2 separate regions of the Homo sapiens genome follow, and region 1 is linked to region 2. Evidence: fine-mapped expression QTL. A gene starts in region 2. The other region holds a variant in brackets. All regions are shown on one strand. Distances are from middle to middle.

The links. PIP is the estimated chance that this variant, and not a neighbour inherited with it, causes the effect. A credible set is the group of variants that fine-mapping cannot tell apart.
Region 1: its variant is the best candidate, but not a certain one, in a credible set for the expression of KRT23 in whole blood (TOPMed, PIP 0.53).

What each region holds. Positions count from the first base shown.
Region 1 is chr17:41,000,919-41,005,315 of GRCh38, forward strand. It overlaps the pseudogene KRTAP3-4P. Among named protein-coding and RNA genes, the nearest start is that of KRTAP3-2, 3.2 kb to the left of the region's middle. The variant T/G (reference allele first, on the strand shown) is at 1,727.
Region 2 is chr17:40,935,830-40,940,226 of GRCh38, forward strand. It overlaps KRT23 (keratin 23), which reads right to left and starts at 1,817. Exons shown (of 9, transcript NM_015515.5): 1 at 1,517-1,817; 2 at 379-1,124. The coding sequence starts at 774. The region is part of intron 1 of LOC107985072 (a long non-coding RNA gene); the gene reads left to right.

The DNA of each region.
Region 1 (4,397 bases), 65 kb after region 2:
TATTTACTTAAGTCAGCCAGAGATTGAACTAGATAATATCAAATGTGTAATATTCTAGATTCCAACATCTTCCTACACCTGTCCATGATCAGCACAAATCCTTTCAGATAATATTGTATAATTTAAATTACATACTCGTTATGTGGCAATTTGTTGACTTAACAGAAAGCAAAGATTCCGGGTAGGTTGTTTCTGAGGGGACATTACCAAAAACCAGTACGATCTACTTAAAAGAGAAGAAAGCTGGCTAAAATCAGTGGAAAATATCAAATGTCATTGGTAGGTAAGCCTTATACGTTATACGTTAAAACAACCAGTTTATCTTTTTCTTTAACAACAAAAATATGTGGTACATATATGCCATAGAATACTATGCAGCCATAAAAAATAAGGAGCTCCTATCCTTTGAAGAAACATGGATGGAGCTGGAGGCTATTATCTTTAGTAACTAATGCAGAAACAGAAAACCGAATACTGCATGTTCTCACTTATAAGTGGTAGCTAAATGATGAGAACGCATGGACACATAGAGGGGAATAACAGATGCTAGAACCTATCAGAGGGTGGAAGGTGGGAGGAGGGACAGGATCAGGAAAAATAACTGGTAGGTACTAGGCTTAATACGTGGGTGATGAGATAATCTGTACAACAAACCCCCATGACACCAGCTTACCTATGTAACAAACCTGCACAGGTACCCCTGAACTTAAAAGTTAAAAACAAAAAAACAGAAAACAGCTTCAAATCATTTTTATTAGCAGGAATTTACAACAAATGCCAAGGGTGTCGAACATCATACTGTTACCAGATGGTGCCATGCAGTTCCAGGCTTTTGGTGTCCCAAAGAATTGGACGAGACACCCACAGCAAAACAAAGAAACAAAAGTGTATTAAGCACAGTATTACACTCTAAGAGGGGGAGAGCAAACCAGCCTCTGTGAGATGAGATCAGCCCCCAGCTTGGTGCAGTTTGCGTCTTTGTGTGTGTGTGTGTGTGTGTATGTGTGTGTGTGTGTCCCTTCCCAAGGCTGCCTAATCTCTAGCCAGTGTTTGCCTCTTTGATTGACAGGTGTGTTGCTTAGTTACTTTGGCCCCTGTGTGCTTGCGCACCACCTCCAGCCCATAATTTTAAGTACATACATGATATGCAGTCCATATGCATAAGCCTGAATGAGCTGATTTTCATACAAGGTCATGTTAAGGATACGTTTTCTCTTTAATGCACATGCTTATCCATGAAGAGTTGCCCCTTACTGGTTTGGTCCTTATCTTGCCGGCCATGGGGGCCTTGCTTTCTTCTCTATCTTACTTTTTGTTTTGGCTGGAGTGCAGTGGCATTCTCTGCTCACTGCAGCCTCTACTTTCTGGGATCAAGTGATTCTCCTACCTCAGACTCCCAAGTAGCAGCTGGGATTACAGGTGCCCGCCACCACACCCAGCTAAGTTTTGTATTTTTTGTAGAGAGGGGTGTTTCTCCATGTTGGCCAGGCTGGTCTTGAACTCCTGATCTCAAGTGATCCACCTGCTTCGGCCTCCCAAAATGCCAGGATTACAGCATGAGCCACCGCGCCTGGTCTAACTTCTGCTTCTTATCTTGCTTCTTGCTTACCTGCCCCTTCACCTTGCTTCTGGTCTCTGCTTTTATTCACTCCACCCTTTATCCAAGTTTTAATTCCCTTTGCTAGTCTCCTGCCTCAATACCTGCACTTTACCACTGAAGAACAGA[T/G]AAGCAAATTCAAGTGGCTTTCCCAGTATATTATAAAATTCAAAGTTAATGAACTAGTATTGAAATCGTCAAGGAAATGTTTAATGTTTACTTACTCTTGACTTACCAGTCTCTCTCATCTAGAAGCCAGTGGCTTGGCAAGTAGAATATATGAAGAAGACCCTCTCCCATTCTCTGTGTTCTCTCTGACTTCTCTTTTAAAATCGATTTTGAAATATTATATAGATTCAGGAGATCTACTGTACAACATGGTGACTATAGTGAATAACCATATATTGCATTTTTGAAAAACGCTGAGAGAATGGATTAAGTGTTCTCATCACAAAAATGATAACTATGTGAGTCACGCATATGTTAATCATACAGCACATTACATAAAGTGAAGGCGGGAGTCTCCTAGGTACTTTACCCTCTGTGACCTCGTTCATACTGTTTCTTTAGCTTAAAGTGACCTTTCCCAATTCTCTAGTTTCCAAATCCTGTTGATCCCTCAAGATTCAGCCAAACATCCCCTTCATAAAGAAACTCTAGGTGATTCTTCTAGATGTTTGCATCCTTTTCTCTGCTCTCACAAAATGGGCTGCCTATTCTTCCCTTTCAACCTCATTTCTTTCTGCTATATTTTGTAGTTTGTCACTTAAATTTGTTTTCCTCACTCCAATGCAAGGTTCTTGGAAGTGGTAATCGTATGTTAGTTTTATTTGTCTTTTTCAAGCACCTAGGACAATGCCTGAAACAGGGTAGGCATTTGATAAATATTTGTTGAATTGGATTACATTTCAGATTAGAATTAAAAAGGTATTTATTTATTTTTATAATGGCCTTTTATAACAGTAACACTTTATATAAAGAGAGTGATTCATTTTTTGTGTGAATTGCTTTACAGTTGTCAAAACTTTTTTTTTTTTTTGAGATGGAGTTTTGCTCTTGTTGCCCAGGCTGGAGTGCAATGGCACGATCTTGGCTCACAGTAACCTCTGCCTCCCGGGTTCAAGCCATTCTCCTGCCTCAGCCTGAGGAATAGATGGGATTACATTCATGCTCTACCATGCCCGGCTAATTTTGTATTTTTAGTAGAGACGGGCTTTCACCATGTTGGTCAGGCTGGTCTTGAACTCCGGACCTCAGGTGATCCGCCCGCCTCAGCCTCCCAAAGTGCTGGGATTAGAGAGGCGTGAGCCACCATGCCTGGCCAACATTTTTAAATTCAAAGATTTACCTAAATGAGACAGCGAAAAAAATGGGCTTGGCTCAATCTTTGAGGTCCTTTCTGTGAGCATGTTGATCTCAAATTGCTAGCTTCACTGCCTCTTTAAGGACACGTGAGTTTATTTAGAGGCAGGGAAAAAATAAAAATCAAAGGTAGATGCTGACCTTGGCATTTAAAACGATTCTAAGCTTAGAGCCTAATGCATTTCACTATCCTCACAGTTTTCTTCAGGTATCTACGTATGCCTGTGAGGCCTCTTTTTGGCTATGAAATTTATGTTGATGTCATCAGAAAGTGTAATTCTGCTGGATGTATTTTTAAGTTCATGATGCATGTGTCAAGAGTCGTTGGGTAATTATAGCATTAAATGTTGAGGCAGTATGTGGTTTGGGGAGTAGTGGTGTTTATTTAGTTTTGAAGTAAGGGGATCCATGGTAGCATTTTTTTTCCCATTTCTCATTTGAAATCATTGTTCAAAACAGGAAAAGAAAACTTCTGTAAAACTGAAGGCACAGTGCTATATTTTCTTCCAAATGGCCTCATTAAAGGCCATTTGCTGAGCAGCGCTTAATGACTACTGAAGGTCCTCAGGGTAATGTGGGCAAGCTCTTTGGCTAGCAGCAAGGTGGTTCACACTCTGGATGCAGGTGGTGACAGAGAGCCCGCTCAGGGTTGGAGCTGGGTGGCATTTGTTGAGCAGTCAACAGGATGGCACATAGGAGTCAGGCATGCAGCCAGGCAGGGGCCAGGTTCACAGCAGGTGGGCTGAAGGAGGCTGATCTCATGAGGACAGGTGCTGGGTAGGCAGACTTCACATTGACAGCTTATGTCAGAGGGGCAGATAGTGGTGGCCAGGCCAGTGGGGACGCTGCAGCATCCTTGGAGATAGGAATCACAGCAAGACATAGTGACAGTGGACCAGGACAATGTTTTGTGGCAAAGGAAGGCTTTCTTCTACAAGGTTGTCCTCTATGGGTCTTTTATATCCACCTATCTCAGGGAACACGGCTTCTGTCCATCAGAATGTTGGACGGAACATCCTTGTTGCTGTTTACCTAATTCTGTAAAAATAACTCACTAACTTCTTATGTATCAGACAGGGGATGAGCTCTCCTTCAGTTTTATTTAGTTGTGTTGCTGCATTCAAACTTGCTTTCTGTTGTAGTTTCAAAATGGTGTCAGTGTAGTTTTCCACTTACTCACATGTAGACACATCCATACTGTATTAGTCTGTTCTCATGCTGCTATAGGGACATACCCGAGATTGGGTAATTTATAAAGGAAAGAAGTTTAATGGACTCACAGTAGACCCACCTCAGCCTCCCAAAGTGCTGGGATTACAGGCACGAGTCGCTGTGCCTGGCCTCAATAACAATTTGAAGGAAAAATGAAATATCTTGTTTTTTATTATATTATCAAGGATAAACAATTATTAATGTTAAGGGCAGTTGTTTTACCTTG
Region 2 (4,397 bases):
CCAGCCCTTATCATTTCTATGACATCGTTGGGTCATAAGTGACATTAAACAGCAGCTGGTTGCCTCACATTTTAAAGATGTTTTTGGTCTGTGAGAAATCAGTAGTCTCATTTTTGAAACAGTCTGTAGCACTTCTATCATTTTTGCTGCCTTCTTTTTCTACATTATCCATGGACAGTAGACTAATTAAACAAAACAGACGTTTCCCACTCCAAATTTAAGATATAATAAGAAAACATCCCCCAAAACCTTTGTGCACAATTACTTCAAGCGCTGATGCCATTTTCCTGGAAATTGTCTTCTGGACTCATTTTTCCTCCCGAGGGTCCCCTGGCAAAGCAGCCCCATCTGGATCTCCAGGGTCACCCAGCATCTTACCTGCTCCTGCAGGTGTGTGATGTTTTCCTCATACTGGGAATAATCTTTCTTACTGCCAGGATCTCTCTGCTGGTGCCATTTCAGGATGCGGCTTTCCAGCTTCATGTTGGCCTCCTCCAGGGCGCGAACCTTCTCCAGGTAGGAGGCCAGGCGGTCGTTGAGATTCTGCATGGTGGCCTTCCCATTTCCGCCTAGTAGGGGGCTGCTTCTTCCAGAACCCCAAGACCCTCCAGGGGGTGGGCAGCTCCGCGTGGTGAAGGACAGGGAGATGCGGGCTCCCCCCGCACCGCCATGGACGGTGGGAGCCCTGGGGAAGCTCCTGGGCCGGCCCCAGCCACCTCCGGCGCCATGGAAGGAGGCCGAGGGGGTCTGGCTGAAGCTGTGTCCGGAGTTCATGGTCCCATCTGTGTTTGGGACGGGGCTGAGCTCTGCTCCACTCCCTGGCACCGCAGAACTGAGCCGCCCCAGACTGCCCTGGATGGTTTTATGGCCTTTGCTGTGGGAGTTCCCTTCTCTGACAATTGTACCAACAAGATTGTATCATTGTGCAACTTGTGTTTCCTCTTGGTCAATCCCAAAGTGCCCCTGGGCCTTCGCACACTGTTGTTGTTTAGAGCCACATCAATATGACAGTTTGCTTCCTCCCTTCCCCTGGTAACCCGGAGGTGTGGCCCACGACATCAGGCGGGTATTGGGCTCAGGTATCTTTCTAATCTTGCCGTGAAGTTTTTCCATTGTTCATTTACCTGGAATGGGTTAGGTTAAAGTCCACCCAAAAGAAAGCATATTCGATGTAGTATAGATTTCCTTAAAAAAAACCAAAAACCAAAACCAAAACAAAACAACAACAACAGCAACAAAAAACCAGACATTAAACAACAGAGATACACACACCTTTTTCCACCCCCAATAAGCCCCACCTCTAAAGGGAGGGTGAGCGAGCCTGGAGAAGGGAAAGCCAGCTCAGAACAGGATCTCAGGTCCCAGAATAAAGCTTGCTGTGCTGAGGCAGCCGAGAAGGTGGTGAATATCTGATGCCTTTGTGGCAGTCACTGTTTGAAGGAAAGTACTTTCAAAGGACTCGCTCTTAAGAACAAACCCTCAATTATAGATGTAATTAATTAATGAATGACCGAACCTTCCACTTCCAGGGTGCCTTTCATCCCAGCACACCTCAAAACCAAACAACCCTGGCCTGCGCTCAGGATTTCCCTTGGCCCTGGGGGAGGAATGTAGCCGTTGTTAGCAGCCCCGGACCCCGGCTGAGCCTGCCACGGCTGGGCTCTGTGTGTCTGTGACCTGCAGAGGGACGATGGAAAACAGGAAACCTGCCATGGGCTGTCAAATGTGGTTGATGAATCTTATATTTCATCTGCCAAGGTAAAGGTTAGGAATGAATAAAGAAGCAGTCTGGGGGCGGGAGCCACGTGCTAGTTACTGGCAGTTGGATTTAAAGGGGACTTACAAATAAAATATCAGCGCAGGAAGGGCTTCTGGCCTTTCTGGTTCCAAGCCACTAATTGGACAGATGAGGAAAGCTGAGGCCTATGGTGGTGGGGAGGTTAGTGGCAGAGCCAGGGCTAGATTCTTTCTCCACATAGCACTGTTATCTTGGGTTGAATCTTGACAGGTCCTGTACCACACTTCTCTTTCATAATAATAGGACTTGCCAATTGGTGTAGCTCTTTTATATTCTTTATTGAATCCTCACAACTCTTTATGTATCCAGGCAAGGGTTGTTGTCTTCATTTTGCAGACAAAGAATCAGGGTCTCATAGGGATGAATGATCCAGAGCTGATTCGCATGTACAGTGTAATTGAGCACATGAATTCATAGGTGACACTGCCCGAGTCTGTGCTGTCCTCCCTGCCTGGAAAGTCACTCACCCCTACCTCTTCTATAGTTCAAGGGCTACCTCCTTCAACAATCATTTTCTGAATTCTCCTGCATGAGTTGGGTGACCCTCTAGGAGGAAACTGCCTCTTCTGGATGCCGAGGTCCTCCAGAGGGGCAGACACCTTGGCATCCCACCTCATGGTGGAAGCTGGGAGCCCCTAGCCAGGCGCAGCCACCTCCTGTGCCTGGGATGAAGTCCACTCCGTTCTTTCACTCCATTATACTGCATTTGCCACACCCTTCTGAGACCGCAGGCTTCTTGAAAGCAGAGTTTATGTCTTCCATTTTTGAGCACCAAAGTCTGGTTTCTTGGTGGTATTTTGCAAATGTATGTTGACTCAATCATAAACTTTTTAGAGTCAGGATTTTAACACAGGTCTCCTGATGCCATCAACTTCTGCTCCTTTTAGGACTGTGAGTTATAGAACTAGAAAGTAGGAAAACGCCTCTCCTGGGTATAGATTAACCATCCATGAAGGCCAATCTTTTCCAATTACAAATAAAGCCACCCAAAAGCACACCAGCTCTGCTCCTCCCAGTCTTACAACAAAACCTTATCAGGGAAGAGTCTCTGAATATTTTTTATTTCACTGTGCACGAGCTGGAAAAATGAGCCTCCAAGCCTCAGGGAAGCTTGGAGAGTGCTTAGAAAGAGTGCCGACAGTCACTTACATCTCAGATATGAGAAAAAGACAAAAGAGACAAGTGATAAAAATAGAGCAAATGAGGGAACTAGAGAGACTTGTTTGGCGAGTGGTGGCAACCAGTGTTCTGTGGATGTGGACGGTTCCTGGTCATCAAAGTTATGGTCAGCTCTGGTTCCTGTTCGCCTGGACCCAGACTTACCAAGGAAGAAAACATTTACCTTTAGCATGTGCAAGGGCCGGGCTGCACTGCCTTTTTCTAAATTCTCTCACCAGAATCTACAATGAAATTAATGCTTCTCTAATTATTTCAGGCATGTCTGAGTGGCAGTGACTTATCAACCCCATAGATTTGGCCACTGTCTCATTTTATGTCCATGTGTGGGAGTTTTGATTTATAGGACTTATCCTTGAGCAAAAGATTTCTTGTGTCATAGCAGGACCAGGGCCAGGAAAAACTGGTGGTGAGATCTGAGAGCACTGGGGAGAAATAGTCTCTTCTAGTACTGTTATATGATGGTTTCCCATAACTTCTTTTTTTTTTTTTCTCAAGATGGAGTTTTGCTCTGTCACCCAGGCTGGAGTGCAATGGCGCAATCTTGACTCACTGCAACCTCCGCCTCCTGGGTTCAAGCGATTCTCCTGCCTCAGCCTCCCGAGTAGCTAGGATTACAGGTGCGCACCACCATGCCCAGCTAATTTTTTGTATTTTTAGTAGAGACGGGGTTTCACCATGTTGGCCAGGCTGGTCTTGAACTCCTGACCTCATGATCTGCCTGCCTTGGCCTCCCAAAGTGCTGGGATTACAGGCATGAGCCACCCTGCCCAGCCAATTTTCCATAACTTCTTTTTTTTTTTTTTGAGACAGAGTCTCGCCCTGTCGCCCAGGCTGGAGTGCAGTGATGTGATCGTGGCTCACTGCAACCTCCACCTCCCGGGTTCAAGCGATTCTTCTGCCTCAGCCTCCCGAGTAGCCGGGACCACAGGTGCGTGCCACCACGCCCGGCTAATCTTTGTAGTTTTTAGTAGAGACGGGGTTTTACCATGTTGGCCAGGCAGATCTTGAACTTCTGACTTTGTGATCCACCCACCTCGGCCTCCCAAAGTGCTGGGATTATAGGCATGAGCCACCGCACCCGGCCCTGGTTTTCCATAACTTCTAATGTGTAGAGTTCCATTGGATTTTAAAAGAAATGATGCTTTTTTAAAAGCATCATTTTAAAAGCATTAAAAGAAATGATACATGCTTATTATACAAAATCAAGTGATACATGATGGTACAGGAAAAAATATTTAAAAATTCTACCACACACACACAACGTTTGGTGACATTTGGTGAACATCCTTTCAGATACTATGTGTATGTATTGGAAGACAAAAGAATGGCTAGAATAATTGGAAAAATGGGCTCCTGCGACTTATTCCATTTTAGAAAAACTTAAGTCAATTAACACATTTTAATTGGCAAATAAGGAACT